Linked DNA regions of Homo sapiens: region 1 is linked to region 2. A link means that fine-mapping ties the variant in region 2 to the expression of a gene that starts in the linked region. Tissue or cell type: whole blood. Region 2 holds a variant in brackets; the other region holds the start of a gene. All regions are shown on one strand. Distances are from middle to middle.

Region 1 (9,595 bases), 25 kb after region 2:
GGACCCTGGGACGTGAAGAGTGGTCCTTCTGGAAGTGCACAGGTGCAGTGTAGTTCCCCACACACCCACCCCCTAGGGACAGGGGCCCCACTGGCCTGGCTGTGACCCACAGGTAACACCGAGCCTTGGCAGGTGGGAAGATGGAGTGGCCCTGGAGCTAGATGGGCCTGCTGGGTCCAGGCTGCCCTTTTAGAGCCATCCGCTGGGCCTTGCCTGTGGGGAAGGGAAGGACATGTGGGGGCCCCATGGGGGCCCTGCCTGTGGGGAAGAGGACATGCGAGGGGCCCCTTGAAATAAGCCTCACGCGACATCCTTGCGAGCTCAGGGACAGAACAAATAACCTTTGCTTTGAGAAAGGGCTAGGGAAACTGAGGCAGGGGTGAGACGCCCTGGAGTCTCTAATTGCAGAACGGACCAGACCCCAAAGCAAAAAGTACGCCAGTGCCACTCCCAATGGCACAGCAGTGTCCTGGCAAGGACACGGGGGCCCTGGAGACCAGGCCTGAGGTCCTCAGCCAGACACAAGTGGCCGAGCCTTAACTCAGCCGTGGCGGCCCTGGGGCCTCGCCTGGATGTCAGGCTCAGCCAAACTCCCAGAAAGGCCCAGGCCTGAGGTCTGCCCGGGACCATGGCCGGGAGGAGCACAGCCCTGGCTGCCTGCCCAAGCCCCCTGCACTCGCTGGCAGCGCCTCCCCACGGCTTCCCCATTCTACAGACCAGGGCCATGAGATGGCAGATGCCCACATGGCAGCCCCCTGCCTGGCCTCCCGGGCCCACATTCACCCTGGACCTTCCTTCCTCACTCTCTGATCAGGAAAGGACACCCTGTTGTGGCCTAAAGAGGTAAAGAAAATGCGGCTCCTGGAACAGGAACAGGCAGCCTCAGCGCAGCGCAGGACAGCCTGAGTCTGGCACCCAAGGCCTCGGCTATGCTCCAGTGTCAGTCTAGAAAGCGTCTGCAGTCTCCCTGTAGCCCTGCAGACACCCACAGCAGGACAGCATGCGGGAAAAGGGCGGGCAGGTCAGGCCTGCTGGGGGCAGTGGGGTCTCCCCAGGCCAACTCTCTCAGGGGTTAGGGAAAAGCAGGCTGGCAGGAGAAGCCACAGGCTAGACACCAGGGGAGCGCCTCCTCCAAGGCCCCACAAGGGGAGCCTGCCTCACCCTGTGGGCACCTGCCCCAGGATCTCCAGGGGAGAGCAGGTGGGGCCAGGTGGCCACGGCCGGCCCCCTGTGTCCTGGACTCAAGGGTTTATGAGCCGTCAGCATAGTCCCTCTCTAAGCCCTGTGGGGCTCCCCAAGTAGCACAAGGCCAGGCCCCCACCCCACACCCTCCTTACCCACTCACTCAGATGCCATCCCCTCGAGACGCTCCGAAGACCAGCCATGCTAGCCAGGCCTCCTGGTGCCCTGGCCTTCAATGCACTAGGCCTGTGTCCCTCTCACTCCCCAAGGGCAGGGGGCACAGCCTATCACCACTGCAGCCCTGGCCCAGGTGCTCCCCCGCTTGGTTGTTGAGTGAATCATCCCAAGAGCAGCCCCCAGCAGTGCAGCCTCCACCTGGACAGGTGAGCCCAGGACAGAGCTCAGGGTGCCCTTCTGCCGGGACAGGCAGTGTCTGGGGTTCTCAGTGTGGGCCAGGGTGTCTGGCCTAGGGTGTGGTTCACAGAGGACAGTCCCCTGACCTTTCCAGCAGTCTGTGTCTGGAACCATAGGCAACCCACAACTGGGGGAGGCCGATAAATACCAGCTCAGAGATGGAGCCAGGAGGCTCTGGTGGGGCAGGCCAGCCCTTCCGCACTCGGAGCCTCGTCTGTCCTCAGGCCACCCCTCAGCCAGGGCCACCCCACCCAAGATCCTCAACCAGAAGCATGTCCCCAAATCACCCACAAAACAACGCAGGTCAGGACAAGGCTTGTGTCATCGATGCTCTGGAAGGAACCACCACCACATTGGCCCAGACTGGGGGAAGATCACTGGAGGCCGCCTGCTCCGGGCTCAGCCCACTTCCTGGCACACAGTAGGTGTGCAGTGAACTCACCCAGATGTACACGCAGGCTGACACTCAAGAGAATCTTGCTTCAGATCACATGGCCCTTGTGGCACAAGCCAGGCAATTCCACCCACCTGCCAAGCCCCTCTCCCCTCTGCTTTGCAAGCAAGGGAGAGAATGCCATCTCCCAAACCGGCCGACAACAAACGCTGGCTGCTGGGCCCACCTCAGCCCTGCATCCCGGCGCCTGTGTGAGCGGGGCCGCCATTCCCGTGGGATTGCTCTGAACAGGTGCCTGGCTGCCCGCCGCCTGCGCTCAACAGCGCCGGTTGTGCTGGGACCCACAGGTTCCCTGAGGTGGGCGGACACCTGTCATAGGGCTCCCAGCAGCTCTTCCCTGTGAGTCAGCACCCACACTTGGGGACTGGGCCTCCACTGTCACATGCAGGGGATAAGGGCGGGCACCACGCCCTGATGAGAAACTGGCACCTGGGGAAGGCAGGTCAGCACCCTGCGGTCCGAGGCAGGGCTGGAAACAGGAGCCCTGGGACTCGGAATACAAGGGCAGAGAACCGGCTGGAGACTCAGGCTCAGGGGAGATGAGGGAGGGGGCGGGGGTCCTTCCAGGACAAGCCTCAGGACTGGGGCTGGGGGAGAGGAGAACAGCCGGACAGACTCAGGCACAGGGGAGATGAGGGAGGGGGCAGGGGTCCTTCCAGGACAAGCCTCAGGACTGGGGGTCGGGGAGCCTGCTCTACCTTCAGATTCCCCACAAGGACAAGGGGGCCAGCCCAAGGCAGCAAGGTTGGCTGCTAAGTGGCTGTGCCCGCAGAGGCCCAGCGCCCGGCTCCGTGGGCGGCTCTGGTTACAGCTGAACGTGGCAGGCAGGGTTGACACCCATGCATCCTACAGCTGCCAGTTCCCACGCCGGGGGTCCCATCGGGCCTGGTTTTTTCCATGAAGGGGAGGCGGTGGTGTAGATTTGCAAACCAGGTTAGCCATGGGCCTCAGGGAGGAGAGCCCGAGGCCACTGCAGATATTCTCAGCCTCCCTTGTCCCGAGTCAAGGAACCTGGGAAATGGGGCAACCCACTGCCGCTCGTGCCCCTCTTCAGGGAGGAAAGGCCAGGCAAGGTGGTGCAGGTCTGGCAGGGGTGCGGCCCTGCTGACCAGGACCAAGCCCAACCCTGCCCGCCAGAGGAAGCTGAGGCCGATGGTGGAGGGGATGGCAGCTCCCAGGTGGCGATTCTCACCCCCCGAGTGTCCCTCCATCCTGCCCGTGCACTCCCAGCGGTAGCCCACACGGAGCGGGCAGGAACCACACGGGAGCCATATGTTAAATCACGTGACTTGTGGATAAATGGCTTCTGGCACATCTAATGAAGAGATAACGTCTGCGAAATAATTGTGGAAGGAACACGGTCCTCTCTGCTAATTCATGTCACCAGGCAAAAATCTGGGCTCCACGGATGGAAAAAGTTGGGCCTTTACAAGAGGAGCCTTTCCCTGCTCCCAGTTTCAAAAGAAAGCCCTGCAGGAGCGCAGCGAGGCCACAGCCTGATTCATGCCTAATCATTGATCTGGCAGCGACAGCTCCCTGCCATGTGACGCGGTGTCCAGGAGGCTCATCTGCACCGCATGGGTCCCTGCAGCCCGTGCACAGGTGCCTCTCAGGAGGAACCGCCCCGCCCTGCCCTGCGCCCCCCACCCAGGAAGCCAGGGCTCCCGGGGGATGTGCCCACGGCTCCCACAGCTTGTACCTCTTCACGCCCCCATGACTCAGGGCTCCCTGGCCTGAAACTGTTCTTAAATCGCACAGCTGGGCGCAACTGCTCTCCCCGAATCCAAACCTCAGCCGCGGAGTCACTCCCAGCAGCCAGGGGCCCGTGGCCTTCGACAGGGCACCCCCACCTGTGAGGAACTGCCAGGGCAAGGCCACGGCGCATCTGACCCTCCCCTGCTTTAACGACAATTCTGCCAACAGTCGAATTCAACAGTGGCTCTGAACAAAGAAAAGTGCATTAATTATGGCAGATGTGTGGAGTTCCGGGACCCCGGCCCCGCGCCCCCCGCCCCGGCCCGCCCCGGCCCGGCGCCCGCCCCGAAAAGTCGCGACGACTTTGAGAACCACTTTTGCCCCCCCGAGTGGCGGCCGCGCTCGCGCGCCCCGAAACTCAGGCTCGGCAGAAACCGAAAGCGGGCGCCGGGGCCACGCCACCCCCAACCCGGAGGCGGGTCCCGGGTCTCCGGGCGGCGGAGGCGGGTGTCGCGTGGGGACCCCGGGGGTGTCCCGGCCCGCGCCCCCGCTCACTTTTTCGTGCAGTCCAGCAGGATCCCCGCGAAGCTCCGCTCGCCGCAGCTCACCGTGACCACCAGCGCGCCGTTGACGACCTGCTCCACCCGCACCGGCAGCCGGCAGCCGGCGCGCGGCTCCATGCTCCCGCCGCGTCCCAGGCCGCCCCCGCCCCGCCGCCGCCGCCGCCGCCGCCGCCGCCGCCGGGTCAGCCCCGCGCGTGACGCCGCCCCGCGGCCGCCTGACGTCACAAAGCTCCGCTGGGGCGGCCGCCACAGCCGAGCCGAGCCGGGCCGGGGGCGCGCGGCCGCGGGCTCCGCTCCCGGGGACCCCGCCCGCCGCCGCCGCGTCCCGGGAGAAGCCGCGCCCGCCCGCAGAGGTCGGCCGGACGCGCGGTGCGGACCCCCGGGCTGGAGAGGGGGCTGCGCCCGGGCTCGCGGCCCACGCTGGCCGGGAGTGTCCCCTGGCTCGGGAGGACCCGAGAGCCACGAGCCCGGGGGCGGCGGGGGGGACACCCGCCGCGGCCGGAGCCCCGGGACCCCATCCCCCCGCTCCCCTGCCTGGGGCCGGTCCCGGGCCCCCCTCCCCCTCCGGGCCCAGCCCTGCGCCCTCCCTCCCTCCCCGGTGGCCCGGATCCTCCCGCCTGGGGTCGGCCGCCCGCGTGTCCCGGCAGCGCCCCGCGCTGGGCTCTGGTGGCCCCGGGCACTGCGGCGAGGAAGTCCCGGGCGGCGCGCGCAGGAAGCCGGGGCAGGCGGAGGGGACGCGGGGCGCCCGGGGGCAGCGGCCTAGTGTCGCCCTCGCCGCGTGGGGGGCGGGACACTGGGTCGCCCCACTGGGCTCGGCGCCTCTCGGGGCGACAAGCGGGCGCGCGCCCGGCTCAGGGCCACCCTGCGCGCCTGGGGGTGGCCGGCACCGGGGCCCGGGGGGTTAACTCCCTCCGGAGGTCTCGGGCGTGTCTCTTCGGGTTGCCGGGCCCAGGGGCCAGGCGCGCCTCCGCCAGTTTACAAAGGAAACAGCCTCCTTCCCCCGCGGCAGGGGCTCCCCGACCCGCGGGCGAGGAGTGGGAGGTGACGGCGCCGGACCCCCTTCCCCCAGGCGCCCGGCTCCCGCGCCTTCAGGCGTCAAAGCCCCCGACTTCCCCGAGCACCAGCACGTCCGCACCCGGCTCAGAACGCAGGGGCCCGGCCTGCTGCGGTGACCTTGGCCCCGGGCCGGGCTTCTGAGCCGGACTTGCAGCGCCTGACGAGGCCTGGAGGCGGGGCGGGGGACCGCGTAGTTGTCCTGGCGACCCAGCGCCGCCGGGCAGGGCTCCTCCCAGCCTGGGAATTGAGGACCACCGCCCCTGGTGCCACTGGGGACCGTCGGGTCGCTGGCGCCTGTCGACCTCGCCCTCCGGCGGCCGCGCGGCAGTGGGAGCCTCAGAGAGGAGCCAGGGCGGAGTGAGGGAGCCCGCGGGGCCTGGGACACCTGACCGTCCGGCTAGAACAGGGGTAGGGACCGAGGCCGAATGAGCCAGAGTTCTGGCCGGGGACAGTCCCAGAGGAGGCCTGGAAGCCCAGTGAGTGTCTGTCCTCCTCTGTGTGGCCTGGGGCTCCCGCCAACACTAAGCCCTTCCTGGGGCCTCAGGCACCTCAAGGCGCCCCGTTCTCCAGGGTCAGCCAGCCCCTGCCCACTGGTTGCCAGGCTTGCAGTGGAGCCTGCCTGCTGTCCTGCCCACAGGCCTCTGCAGCTGCCCCCTCCAGGGGTGGGGCTGACTTTGGAGGAAAAATGCCAGGCAGCAGGGACCCCCTCGCCACCCTGCTCCAGGTTGGGCTGAGCGGCCATCCTGAGGCTGCCCACTTGCTTGGCTCTTCTTCCTGCCTGCTGGAGAGGCCTGCTGGGCACTGCCCTTTCTGAGCATTGGGGACTGCCAGGGTGAATCAGCATTCAGGCTGGTGGGGCCAGCATGGGGTGGGGCTAATGCACAGGGGGCTGTATGTGGGTGGAGGGATCCAGAAAGAGTGTCCAGGGGAGCACCAGCATTCACCAGGGCCCCACCAGGTGGGCAAAAGCAAGGGCTTCCGAGGTGGGGGTGGGGGTGGGCAGGATCCTCTGCAAGGTGTCTGCGTGCGCCTGGGGCTCCTGGTGACTTCCCACGCCAGCAGGAGGAACAGTTTGGGGTGTGCTGAGGGACCCACCTGTGGACTTGCTGGGCTTTGAGAGGAACCAAGGCTGGGTGGCGGCGGGCAGGACAGGGGAAGAGGGTTCCGGGGCACAGAGGGCCAGACAGATGCACCCAGCAGCTGGCAGCTCTGGCTGGAGAGGGGAAGAGGGCAGTGAGAAGCACGGCTGGCCCATGGTACCTCCTGCCCCTCTGCCCTGCCCGCCTTCCCTCTGCCCTGCCCACCTTCCCTCTGCCCTGCCCGCCTTCCCTCTGCCTCTTCCCCTCTGGCCCGTGCTATTTACTGTGTATTGTTAAGTGAACTTGGAAGCCGTTTTTAAAACCTGCTCTCCACTAGGTAAGGTATAAAAAAGACCATCTGCAGACAGGGAGACCATTTTTGCAACTTAAACGGTGGCTGTTCAGGGCCTCCCCCAGCAGCCCTGCCCCCGCACCTGCTCCCACTTGCTTCCCGCCCCGCTCCAACCTGCTTGTTGAAGAAGAGGCCATGGGAGTTTCCAGAGTCCCCGATTAAAGTGCAGGTGTCCTTGGGGACCTCATCAGCCCAGGTATCCCCTCCTGTCTGACCCTGTATTCGGGGGTTGGGAGGCTGTCCTAGGCTTGCTGCTCTGAGCATCTCCCCAGAGGCCACCCTGCTCATGCCAGTCAGTGAGGTCTGCCCAGTTCTGGGAAGCACCCTGGGTACTGGGGCTGGTGCTGCCCACAGTGAGAGGACCCTGAGCTGCCTGGCTGGGCTGGAGAGGAGCCTCGGGAGTACGCCCCTGGCTGGGGTGAAAAGGCCAAGAGTGGGAAGAGACACCTCCGAGGTCTTTAGACTTTGTCTTCAAGAGACTTGATCCAAACAAAAGGTCCTAAAGCCTTTGGTCCTCTGGCTGTAGGCACAGCCGCAGCAAGGCCTAGGACATGCCCAGCTCGGGACGGCCCAGCCAGTCAGATGGGGTAAGCCAAGGGGACAGGAGAGTGTCCGGAACTTCCACCGGGGCTGGGGGTGGGTGACCAGCAGTTGGCAGGATGGGTGGCCTGAAGGGGTACAGTTGAGGGAGGGACAGGTGGCTGGAGGAGGAAGCAGGGGCTGGCCTCTATGTCCCCTGAGACAGCAGGGGAGGAAGGCAGGAACCCCGCAGGCCACCTCCCCTCAGGGTCTGCCTCCCCTGCGGTCCTTGGAGGAACTCCAGGATTTGTCCTCCCTGGCAGCCTGGCTCACTTGCATCACCAGCTCCATGCCCGCCCCTCGTCTTTCAGGGTCGCTCCCCCAGGTCCGAGCTTAGAGGGCCCTCCTGACTGCTGGACCTGGACCTGCCCAGCACTGTCCTACCGCACTACATCATCACTGAGACTTGGGAAGGGCAGTGGTGAGCAGGTTCTCAGCCTTTGTTGGTCTCTTCCACGAGATGAGGCTTACAGCGGCCTCCCCATGACTGAGGTGCAGCCACAGCCTGGCCTGTGTCCAGCCTGCTCCAGAATCACCTGGTATCCCCCCAACCCCCAACACACCTGGGCTTGCTTGATCTTACTGGAGCTCACCAGGGCCTGGCTGTGTGCAAGTCTCATGCAGCATAGTGAGGTGCTCCTGAGATGCATCGAAGGTGTCTGGTCAAGATGGAGGCCTCGCAGGACACAGCCATGAGTCAGAGACCACAGATTTCTCCAGAGCTGGTGCCCAGAGGCCAAAGGCAGGGATGGGCCTTGAGGCTGGGACCCAGGTCGCCTCATGGCAAGCCTTTTGCCCACAGCAGCTGTGGAAGGCAGGAGACAGGATAAAGCCTTTAATACAGAGGGCCTGCTCTGATTTCAGTAAGCAACCATTCATCACTCAAGAAGCCTGGACAGACTAGGGAGCAGGAGCACGCCAGGCCTCCTCCAAGGTGTCTGGCAGGGAGGCCGGCCTGGGGAACACACTCCTTGTCCCTTGTCGTGTCGTCTGAGGCAGGGGCTCAAGGCAATCTTTGCAGATGCTGAGCCAGGAACCCTCGACCTTCTAGCAGGCCACAGATCCTTTGGGCAGTGTTTGTTTTGTTCTGCTCCAGTCTGGAAGCCCTTGGAGGGCAGTGTGGGTCTACAAGGCCAACTTTGTCTTGTCTGTTCTGGAGCTGTCTCCCTGCCCCTTGGGTTATCAGGATGATATAGGGTCACATCCCCTGAGGCAGTATCTCAAAGGACCGGCTGGGAACAGAACCTGCCAAGACTCCACTCGAGGTGGTGCAGAGAGCTGGGCAGGCACATAAACTCTGAGGCCAAACTGCTAGAGTCCTGCCATGTGACCTTGGGGAGACTGCCACCTCCCTTGTGCCTCAGTGTCCTCATCTGTAAAGTGGGAAATATGATGGTACCTACCGTGTAGCCTCGTACTGAATATTAAATGAGTTAATATTAAATGAGATACTTAGTACAGCACAAGCCCCAGTAAAGCTTCCATGAGTTAGCTGCCATCACCATCATCAACACTTTTGTCATTATCAGCATCACCATCACCACCACAGTCTCCACCATCACCGCTACAGCCATCATCACCATGAGCATTACCATCCCACCTCCCCCATCACTACCACCACCATCACCATCACCATTGTCACCACCGTCACCATCATCACCATCACCATCACCATCATCACCACCATCACCATCATCACCATCACCATCATCACCATTACCACCACCCCCATCACCACTACCATCACCATCACCATTATCACATCACCATCATCACCATCACCATTATCACCACCACCACCTCCACCATCACCATCACCACTACTGCCATCATCATCATGATCACCATCCCACCTCCCCCATCACTACTACCACCATCACCATCACCATCATGACCACCATGACTATCATCAGTATCACCCCACCACCATCACTATCACCATCACCATTGCAACCACCATCACACCACCATCACCATTATCACTGTCACTGCCACCACCATCTCCACTATCATCACCATCACACCACCACCACCATCCCCACCATTGTCACCATCACCACCATGACTATCACCACCACCATCACCACCATCACACCTACCATCACCACTACTATCAGCATCATCACCACCACCGCCATCACCATATCACCATCACCATTATCACCAGCAAAATGATCACCACCACCACCACTCTCATGATACTTGTATAGCTGGGCCCTCA
Region 2 (9,595 bases):
TGCTTTCCTAGAGCAGGGATGCTTCATTCATGGGGTCTGTGAACTTGGACGAGAAAAAGCAACATCTCTATTTTACTAAGCTCTGACTGAAATCTGGCATTTCCTTCCACGAGGAACGCCAGCCATCCCAGGGCTTTATCTCAAATAGAAAACACAGGTGTGTTTGTATCACTTTGCAGTTGTTGCAGGTTTTTCAAACTTGTCCACACTCACCTCCACCTCTAAAACTCAGGGGCTGCTGGACGCTGGGTTTTGTTATCCAGTGCGACGTGTAATGCAGCCACTGCCACCCTCACACATCTGCTTTGTTGATATTTTGACATCTGCTTCACTATGGCTGTTTTCCTTGGTGGCCGTATGTGTTTTTGTCCAAGTAAATCATGAATGGTAGAGCGCAGGGATTTCTAGGGCAGTGAAATGATTCCATACGATACTGTGATGGTGGACACACGGCATCGTGCATTTGTCAAAACTGATGGAACAGCAGCAGTGGTCCCCAACCTTTTTGGCACCAGGGACCAGGGACCAGTTTTATGAAAGACATTTTTCTTATAGACCAGAGGCTGGGGGGGGCGATGATTGGGGATGAAACTGGCCCACCTCAGGTCATCAGGCATTAGATTCTCGTGAGGAGCTCGGAGCCTAGCTCCCTGGCATGGGCAGTTCACAATAGGATTCATGCTCGTATGAGAAGCTAATGCTGCCGCTGATGTGACGGGAGGTGATGCTCAGGTGGTAATGCTTTGCCTGCCCACCTCTCACCTCCTGCTGTGTGGCCTGGTTCCTAACAGGCCCTGGACTGGCACCAGTGCCGATGCAAATGACGGGCATAAGGGCACTGTGGGTGGGGGCTCAGGGAATGCCCTGTGCTACCTGCTCCCTGCTCTGTAAACCAAAAACTGCTCTACAAAATAAAGTCTATTCACTTAAAAAAAAAACTCTTAATTATGAAAAAAATTATCCCCATGCTGTCAAAACGCCCCCTCCCCACAGGAGCAGATGCTCTAGGGACAGCTGGCCCAGGCTCAGGCCAGCTGAGCCCCTTGCCAGCAGGCGTGCAGCCCACGCCTGCCGGAACAGGGGAACAGCATTGGCCTCTGTGTCCTGGAACAGGGTGGGATGCCTGGGGCAGCACAGCCCCCAGATCTATGGCCAGGTACAGCCACCGGCAGTGAACACCTCCGGAGGTGGCCTGCAAGGAAGGAACGGTCACGTCGTTGAAAGTGCAATTCAGCATCCACACGGCACACGCACGCGCACACGTGGGTACACAGCATCCACACGGCACACACACGCGCACGCGTGGGTACACAGCATCCACACGGCACAAGCACGCGCACGCGTGGGTACACAGCATCCACACGGCACACACATGAGCACTCATGGGCACACAGCATCCATATGGCACATGCACACACACACGGGTACACAGCATCCACATGGCACACGCAAGGCACACATGGGCACACAGCATCCACACGGCACACGCACGGGCACACAGCATCCACACGGCACACACACGGGCACACGGCATCCACACGGCACACGCACGTGGACACACGGGCACACGGCATCCACATGGCACACGCACGGGCATGCGGCATCCACACGGCACATGCAAGGCACATGGCATCCACATGGCACACGCACGCGCACACGGCACCCACACGGCACACGCACGGCACACGCACGCGCACGCAGGGGCACACGGCACCCACACGGCACACGCACGCGCAGGCACGGGCACACGGCATCCACACGGCACACGCACGCACACGCATGGGCACCCAGTCGCACATGCGTGTCAGTATCAGCAAGCAGCCCCACTGCAGGACAGGCCCAGTATGCTCCTTTCCCAGTTTTGAGGAGCTGAAATTCTTCCTTAATCTAAATGTTTTCCGTTCGGAACGCACACGTGTTGTGTTTTTTCCACAGTCATTAGATTCAGAGTAATTAAACCAAAACGCTCATTTCTGGAAAGAGACAAAGTATTTTGAGTTTCTACATCAATATTTAACATCTGCCTAACATTTTATATGCTGCCCTGGTGGGTAAAACGATTTCTACTCTCCATAAAGATGGACTCTGCCACAAATCCCTCAAGAAAGAAAGATATTTTCTTGTGAAGAGTCAGCCATAGTGTCTGCCTTACGTAGAGCTTGACAGTTTTTTTTCTTATTTTAAAATCTCAGAGCCAAATTCAGTTCGACAATCAAGCTAAATGATTAGTCGGCTTTAGAGCTGATGTGTGTGAAGTTGGAATTTAGCACATTAAATATTTCAGGGAGAAAGTGCGCAACGTGAGACAGAAAGGCAGAGGCTTCCTCTAGAACTCAGCCTGGAGTGGTTGCAGGAAAATGCGCCAATTAGCAGGGGCTTCGTTCTCGCCAATGTGACAGCTCAGAACATTTGCAATCCATTTTGGAGGATGAGAAAGGAATACTGTGCTCCCCTTCGTGCAAAAACCAAGCCATGCAGAACAAAATTACAGGCCAGGAGGACATGCCAGGGCCTGTATGGACAGTGCTGGATGGTGCAGAACCCACGTGCTGGGTCCCTGTGTGCTCATGCCCATCCAGAGATGCCCTGGGGACACAAACAGGCCCTCAAATGCAGAGGGCCTGTCCAGGGAGCAGGTGAGAGGGAAACGCAAAGACAAGTGGTGCCTCCAGGGTGGCCCAGCTCAAGCCTGCCAGAGCACACCTGCCTCGGCACCGGGGCTTCCGGGACCCCACCACTGAATGCCAGGCCACCCCAGGCAGGGGACAGGCTGCGAGAATGGGCCTCAAGCCCTTGCTGATCTCCTCGCCAGCCACAGTGGGACAAGCTCTGATGGGGCAGCAGGGCCCTACTCACCCCATGGGCAGCCACTGGTTAGAGATACCCCGGCCGCCTGGGTGCCCAAGCCGAGCCTCCCCTGGGGGCCGTGTGCGTCCCATTTGGAGTCCCCACCATGCCCACTGTCCTCTCCACAGCTGCTCTGGTGGGTGGGGTGCTGGCCTACCAGGGTGCAGCAGGGACACCAGGAAGCTCAGCACCTCACTCAGCACCTGCTCTTCAGGCTGAAGCTGGCAGCGGGACCACCTCCACTTGCCTAGGACTGCAGAGCACAACCTGGCACCCTCCTGAAGATGACGCACATGATCATGACCCACAGGACCCAGCGGCTCCACCCCCAGGGGTGAGCCTGAAAGAAGCAAAAACACACAGCCACACACACACACACAGCCACACACACAGCCACACACACACACACAGCCACACACACACAGCCACACACACAGCCACACACACACACAGCCACACAGAGACTGCAGGAAAGCTCACAGCAGCTTTGTGCACAGCAGCCAAAAGGCAGAGACAGCTCACATGTCCACAGACTGACAGATGGACAAACACCATATGTTCACCCACATGGGGAGCATCATTCAGCATAGAAAGGAATGGGGCACAGGCACGCGCCAACACGGGGGCATCGTGAAAGCACTGTGCTCGGCGAAGGAAGCCACACACGACCGCCTGCCAGAACACATGCTACACACAACGGTGTGTCACACACAACCACACATCACACGGAACACGTTACATGCAATGGTGTATCACACACAACCACGTCACACGGACCACATGGAATGCATGTTACAATCATAAATCACACAAACCACATGTCACATGGAACATGTGTTACACACCGTATCTTACACATAACTGCACGTCATACAGAATGTGTGTTACACACAACTGTATCTCACACACAACCGCACATCATACAGAACGCATGTTACACACAATCATATCTCCCACACAACCGCATGTCACATGGATGAAATGGAACGCATGTTACACACAATCATAAATCACACACAACCACATGTCACACAGAACGCAGAACAGGGAAGTCCCCAGAGACGGAAGCAGATGAGGGACTGCTTAGGCCTGGGGAGGAGGGTGATGGCTAAAAGCTGTGGGGTTTCTTTCTGAGGTGAAGCGAATGTTCTAAAAGGGCCCGTGGGGATGTTGCCCATCTATAAACACGCTGAAAGCCATGGACGTGTCCACTGGAAGGGGAGGGATCATATGATATGTGAGCTACGTCTCAAAGAAAGCTGTTTTTTCAAAAAGACTTGTTTCCCGTCTCCCCCGAGGGCTTCCTGGACTCCTGTTGCTTGTCTCTGTCACGAATCCTCACCCCAAAATCATAGGATGAACACCCCAAAGAAATCATGAGAACTCTTCTCTTTGTAGCAAACCACCAAAGGAGAAATTCATGCTTGAAACTGTATCCAAACGGATCAGGGGCCCAAGGGCTGGATGATCTTCACCGCAGCTGGTCTCTGAAAACATGCCTTGTGACCTGCAGTGAGGAGTCCGCATCTGTCTGTGCCACCTGCTGAGACTGTCCTCTCTCGGGCTCCCATGGGGGCTGCGGGCTGGAGCGGGGCCAGGAGGGAGGGGGATGGACGGCTGGGAGGAGGACAGACACCCACACCTCGGTGACAGGTGACAGGCGTTGGCTTGGGCAGAGCCTCGGTGACCTGCCTAGGTTTTCTTCCCCAAAGCAGATCCCAGCTGCGTCTGCACCCAGCAGGCCCCAGAGCCTTCTCCTCCGTGGGGGGGTGGGGGTAAGTCCCCTCCTGCTGGGCTGCCAGGCCTCAGGCAGCCTCGACGCAGCTCTGCACCCAGCTCCCGGCTCCCACAGAGAGCCCTGCAGCTACAGCCGGGGCGGCAGCTTCCAGTGGGCTTCCTGGACCCCTGTCTCCCAGCCACGCCGACCGCAGCCACTATGTGGCTCCTTACAGTCCTCCCCCGGGACCCCTCAGCCCCCACTGGCCTCCGTCTCCCCATCCTGGTGCCCCTCTGCTCTCTGTGGGTCTCCATGGGTCACCCCACTGCCCCGTTCATCTCTCCGTCCTGGCGCCCTCTGCCCTCCGAGGGTCACCCCCGCCGCCCTCTCATCTCTCAGGTCTTGTCCCTGCCTGGCAGCGGGTTGAGCACTGGGCCCACTCCTGGGCCTCCCAGCTCCCTTGGGACCATCTCTCTCACCTCTCCAGCCCCTCCAGCTGTGGACACTGACCCCTGCCTGGCTATGGGGCTCTAGGGCAAGCCCCTCCGGCTCCAGGCCTTCAGCCCCCTCCCCCCAGCCACACCCAGGAAGGAAGGAAG[C/T]CCCCACTGCTCTGCCCCTTGGAGGGTCAGCGACGCCTGCCCGCACAGGGAAGCTCTCCTGCCTCCCTTCGTGGTTGGGGAACTGGCTGCCCTGGGTGAGGCCCTCAGGCCTCACCCGCCTCTCTCTGCGGAGAAAAGGCCCGTGGTAGCAGCAGGCGGGGCTGGGGCTAAAAATAACTCTGCTGGGGCAGAGGCTGGCTGGTGAGGCCGCCTCTGTAGGGTGGGGGCGGGAAGGGAGACCGGCCCTGGGACAGCCTCAGCTGGAGCCCAGGGGCGGTGGCCCCAAAGGCCAAGCAGGAGGCCCACTGACCTGACCTCCCCCCGCAGAGAAGCTGGGCAGGGAGCAGGAAGTCCATCTGGGGTCAGGGCGGTGGGGCCCCCCCAGCTGCAGCCCCCTACTTCCAGCCGGGTATTGATCGGCTTGAAGCTCCTTGGGGCACAAAGGAGCTTAACCCTCCTGAGCAGATGACGGCCACGCTCAGGCCAGGGGCAGGGCCCCATCTGCGTCGGCCTCTCCGGAGTGCACCCTTCCCATGGCTGGGGGTGGGGCTGGGGCCGGGGCCGCAGGGTGCAGGGAGCCCAGCGGGAGAGCCCAGCCCTGCCGCGGCTCCTCCCTCAGTGTCCACGGGGAGATGCCCCTGGCCACAGGCAGCCGTTGGCACCTCAGACCTGGGGCAGGAAGGGGAGGGAGCCCCCGGCCACAGGAAGCCACGGAAGGGTGAGCTGGGCACAGAGTTCCAGGGTGACACAAGGCCAGGTCTGCAGAGCAAACATCTGTTAATGCCCAGAAAACTCACCCGGGAAGAAATACGCAAAAGGCCCACAGGGTGTGAGACTGCGGGAGATTCTAATTTTCTTTTTTTTTTTTGCTTTTCTTTATTTTGCTAATTTTTTCCCCCCACCAACAGGGGTTATTTTATAATCAAAGAAACAGAAAACCCTCGCAGAAAAGGGAAGTGCTGGCTGGGGTCCTGGCCACGGTGCCGTCCAGGCAGGATTTGGAAGGGTCCTGGGCTTTGGAGTCCAGGAACCAGCTGTGGCCCCCCGGGTCTCAGCCTCCCCAGCTGTAATGCAAAGTATGCACCCCCAGTGAGGACTCCTCACCTGCTCTTGCCCCTCCCCAGCCATCCCACCACCACCCAGCAGGGCCTAGGCTGCGGGGCTTGCACTGTGAGAAGCCCAGGCAAGGAGGTGACGCAGAGGCCCTGGCCCAGCCCACACAGCCAGGCCACAGAGCTGGAGCCCAGGGCGACCTAGTCTCTGTCCCCAGAAGGCAGACCAGGACTCCAGCCCCAGGAGCCCCACACAGGCCTTGACTCCCTCTCCTGGACCACGCCAGGGTCCCCCTAGATGGCGGGCAGGGGGTTGTGGGCAGGGCCTCCGGGAGATGGGACCAGCAGAAATGGAGCCACCTGGGGGAGGATCTGCAGCAAGAGGAGGAAGATGAAGAACAAGAGGAAGAGGAAGAAGAGAAAGAAGGCTGGAGAGCAGCACCCCAGGCCACGCCACCCACTGCGTCCAGCCCAGCTCTTCCACGCCAGGCCACGACAACCCCTGCGTCTACCCCAGCGCCCATGCCAGCCCCTGCTTCCAGCTCTGTCTGGGGTGGGTTGGAAGTGTGACCCTCAGAGGTAGGGATTGGGGCTCAGGCTGGGACCAGAGAGTGACAGAAAACAGACCGTGCTCCCTGCACCTGCCACCCCGTGTCCTCCCACACGGCCTGGTCCATGTCGAACACGGTAACAGCTGGCCTCAGCAGAGGAGGGACAGCAGCAGCCCTGGTGGAGACGGGATGCTGGTGACCCTGCGGGGCTGGTGGTGCCAGCAGTGCCTTCCCTGCTCCCGGAGGAGTTGCCCTGGGCCCCCAGCACAGCGGCTACTGGGGTCACAAACGTACCCCAACCCCGAAAGCTCCTTGGAAGGCTAAAGGGCCAGAGCCCTCTCCACGACAAACCCTGGGAAGACAGCCAGGGTTGGCTCTGTTCTGAGCGAGGAAGTCTTGCCAGGTGGGGTGCTTGGGAGGCTGGACCCAGAGCAGGGGAGACCCAGAGCAAGAGAGGCCCAGGACCAGCTCCGGGCAGCCCCGCTGAGGCCCCAAGCCCCCTGCCGCACAACCCACTTTGCACCCAGGACCTCGTACTGACTAGGGTTGGCTCCCCAAGGGCCCCTCCCCCAGGAGACCCCTCCTCCAGGCCCCTCCCCCAGGAGACCCCTCCTCCAGGCCCCCCCCCAGGAGACCCCTCCTCCAGGCCCCTCCCCCAGGAGACCCCTCCTCCAGGCCCCTCCCCCAGGAGACCCCTCCTCCAGGCCCCTCCCCCAGGAGACCCCTCCTCCAGGCCCCCCACCAGGAGACCCCTCCTCCAGACTTCCTCCCCCAGGTGCCTCCTCCCCCAAGGCTCCCCGCCAGGTGCTCCTCCCTCAGGTGTTCCGCTCCCAGGTGTCCCCCTGACCCCCTCTAATAGAGGGACGAAACCCTGGTCCCAGAACAGGGCTTTCCCAGCAGGAATTCTTCCCTCAGTTTAGCCTTCCTGGGGAGCCCATGGGTGGAAGGGCGGGGATTCAGGACCTGGTCCAGCCCAGCCTGACCAGTGGGTACTGGCAGCTGGGGAACCCACCTCCCTGGGCCTCCGCTCCTCACCGGATGAAAGCCCCACCCATGCATCTCAGGGTCTCAGGATTGAAGGGCAAGGGCTGGGGCTGGGCTTGGGGAGGAGCTGCAGGCTGTGGCGTCAGTCCTGGCCTCAGGCTCAAAGGCGGGTCCCGTTGCTGTCACCTGCAGTGGCTGAGCTCTAGTTGCAGGCTGGGCAGCTGGGAGTGAATGTGCCCAGGGCTGCACGCATATTTTGTCCCAGGGGTGAGGCCTGCTCCTTCCATTGGACACACACATTTCTTGAAGCAGTGCCAAGCTTTACGAAGGCCTTCCTTCGTAAAGGGGAGCCAACCCTAGTCAGTAGGAGGTCCTGGGTGCAAAGTGGGGTGTGCGGCAGGGGGAGTCACCCCGAGCAGCAGATCAGGCAGGGGCAGCCCCTGGGCACCGGAGCTCAGAGGGATGAGATGCCCAGCCCCAAGGGCCAGGGCCCTGACTCTGCTGCACCCACGTGGGCAGGGCCGGGGAGGGAGGAGGGGAAGGGGAGCTGCTCTCATTCCTCTCAAGTCCTGGCTCTGCTCTCCTGGGCTCATGCGAGCCCCTCCCTGGATTTTCAAAGGCTTCCCAGGACTCTTGGGCCTGGAGGGCTTCAGGAGGATGAGCCCAGCCCCTCCGGGAGGAAGTGATTCTGGGTGATTTTGTTGGAGAAAAGGGCTCTGCTGCTACAAACCAGTTTGAAAACCATGCCCCTCCTCGCAAGTCAGGTCCAGAACCATAGGAAACCATGAGGGTTGTTCCCTCATGTGCCCTGGAGAGGACCCTCCAGGTGTATGCTGCTGCCCTCCCCCGACCCCTCCCCCGCCAGACGATCCTTGCTGAGGGCAGCGATGCCTTTAGAGCACAGAATGTTCTAGCAAAACCAGGAACAAGCAAAGCCACCATCGTCATCTCTGAGATCTCCCTTGGTTCTGAATGAGCAAATCAAGAAACAAGGGATGAGAGGAGTCACTCCAGGAAACAAAGAACAAAGCTCCCCGCGTGCAGAGCACTGCCTCTCCAGGAAATCCCAGCGTCCACTGGAAAGCCAGCAGGGAGGCCTGGAGATGGGGACTCAGCCCACAGCCCTCCTGGGGCTCAGGGCGGTGACCAGCGTCCCCCCACCTGGAGGCAGCGAGATGCAGCCGGTGGCGGCGTCACCCCAACCCGTACGACATGGGCCCCGCCCAGCAGTGCCCAGGGGACTCAGGCCCCGTCAGCCCCGACAGGGACACACGCATGAGTGTGAACTGTGGCCGCACAAGTCACAACTTCAACTATGACATATGTTTCTCTCTCTTTTTGTTTTTAACATTTAAACAAAGAAAGAGCAGATTAATTTTTTTCTTTTCTTTCTTTATTCTTTTTGGTCTTTAAAGTGACAAAAAAGAGGAAAAGGAACACGCTCTTACAAAACAGAGCAAGTTTCTTTTCCTTGTACTGTTGAAGCCCGGTTTCCCAGGGGCCGCCCTTGGCCTCCTCCACACAGCACTGGTCACTCGTAGCAGCATCTGCAGGCCAGGTGCCAGGTGCCCAGCGGGCCCCACGCTCTGGGATGAACTTGGAGTGGGAGACGGTGGGTGGGTCCCCCAGCTCTCAAGTGCACAGAGACCCCGCACCCAAGGGCTGGGGAAGAATCCCACACGTGCAATTGGGTTTTTCTGAAGCCTGCGGGAGACCAAGCTGAGTCTGCGAGACAGCTGCCTCCAGGACACTGCGAGGCAGGGAACAGCTGCCCACACCAGCCGCTGGGCGAGGCCGGGGCGCCAGGCCTGGTTCCTCCATGGGACCCCAGCATGCGGGCAGCAG

Direction of the effects. Alleles are on the strand shown, and positions count from the first base shown. SD is a standard deviation of normalised expression in the study named.
With allele C in place of T in region 2, the expression in whole blood of the gene that starts at base 4,452 in region 1 is lower (large effect, 0.94 SD a copy in GTEx).

What was found.
Region 1: it holds the start of PWWP2B, and the variant in region 2 is fine-mapped to the expression of PWWP2B in whole blood (TOPMed, PIP 0.96).

The regions. Positions count from the first base shown.
Region 1 is chr10:132,392,057-132,401,651 of GRCh38, reverse strand. PWWP2B (PWWP domain containing 2B) reads right to left here and starts at 4,452. Exons shown (of 3, transcript NM_138499.4): 1 at 4,301-4,452. The coding sequence starts at 4,425. It overlaps LOC124902526 (a long non-coding RNA gene), which reads left to right and starts at 5,096. Exons shown (of 2, transcript XR_007062342.1): 1 at 5,096-6,991; 2 at 7,322-8,837. RefSeq lists enhancers at 109-885, 2,872-3,394, 3,395-3,917, 5,488-6,010, 6,011-6,534 and silencers at 4,180-4,319, 4,330-4,439, 4,850-5,279, 5,300-5,679.
Region 2 is chr10:132,417,390-132,426,984 of GRCh38, reverse strand. PWWP2B (PWWP domain containing 2B) reads right to left here. Exons shown (of 3, transcript NM_138499.4): 3 at 9,126-9,595. Among named protein-coding and RNA genes, the nearest start is that of LINC03068, 23 kb to the left of the region's middle. RefSeq lists enhancers at 2,799-3,325, 4,143-5,046, 6,857-7,761, 7,762-8,665 and silencers at 5,504-5,563, 5,594-5,653, 5,684-5,733. The variant C/T (reference allele first, on the strand shown) is at 5,164.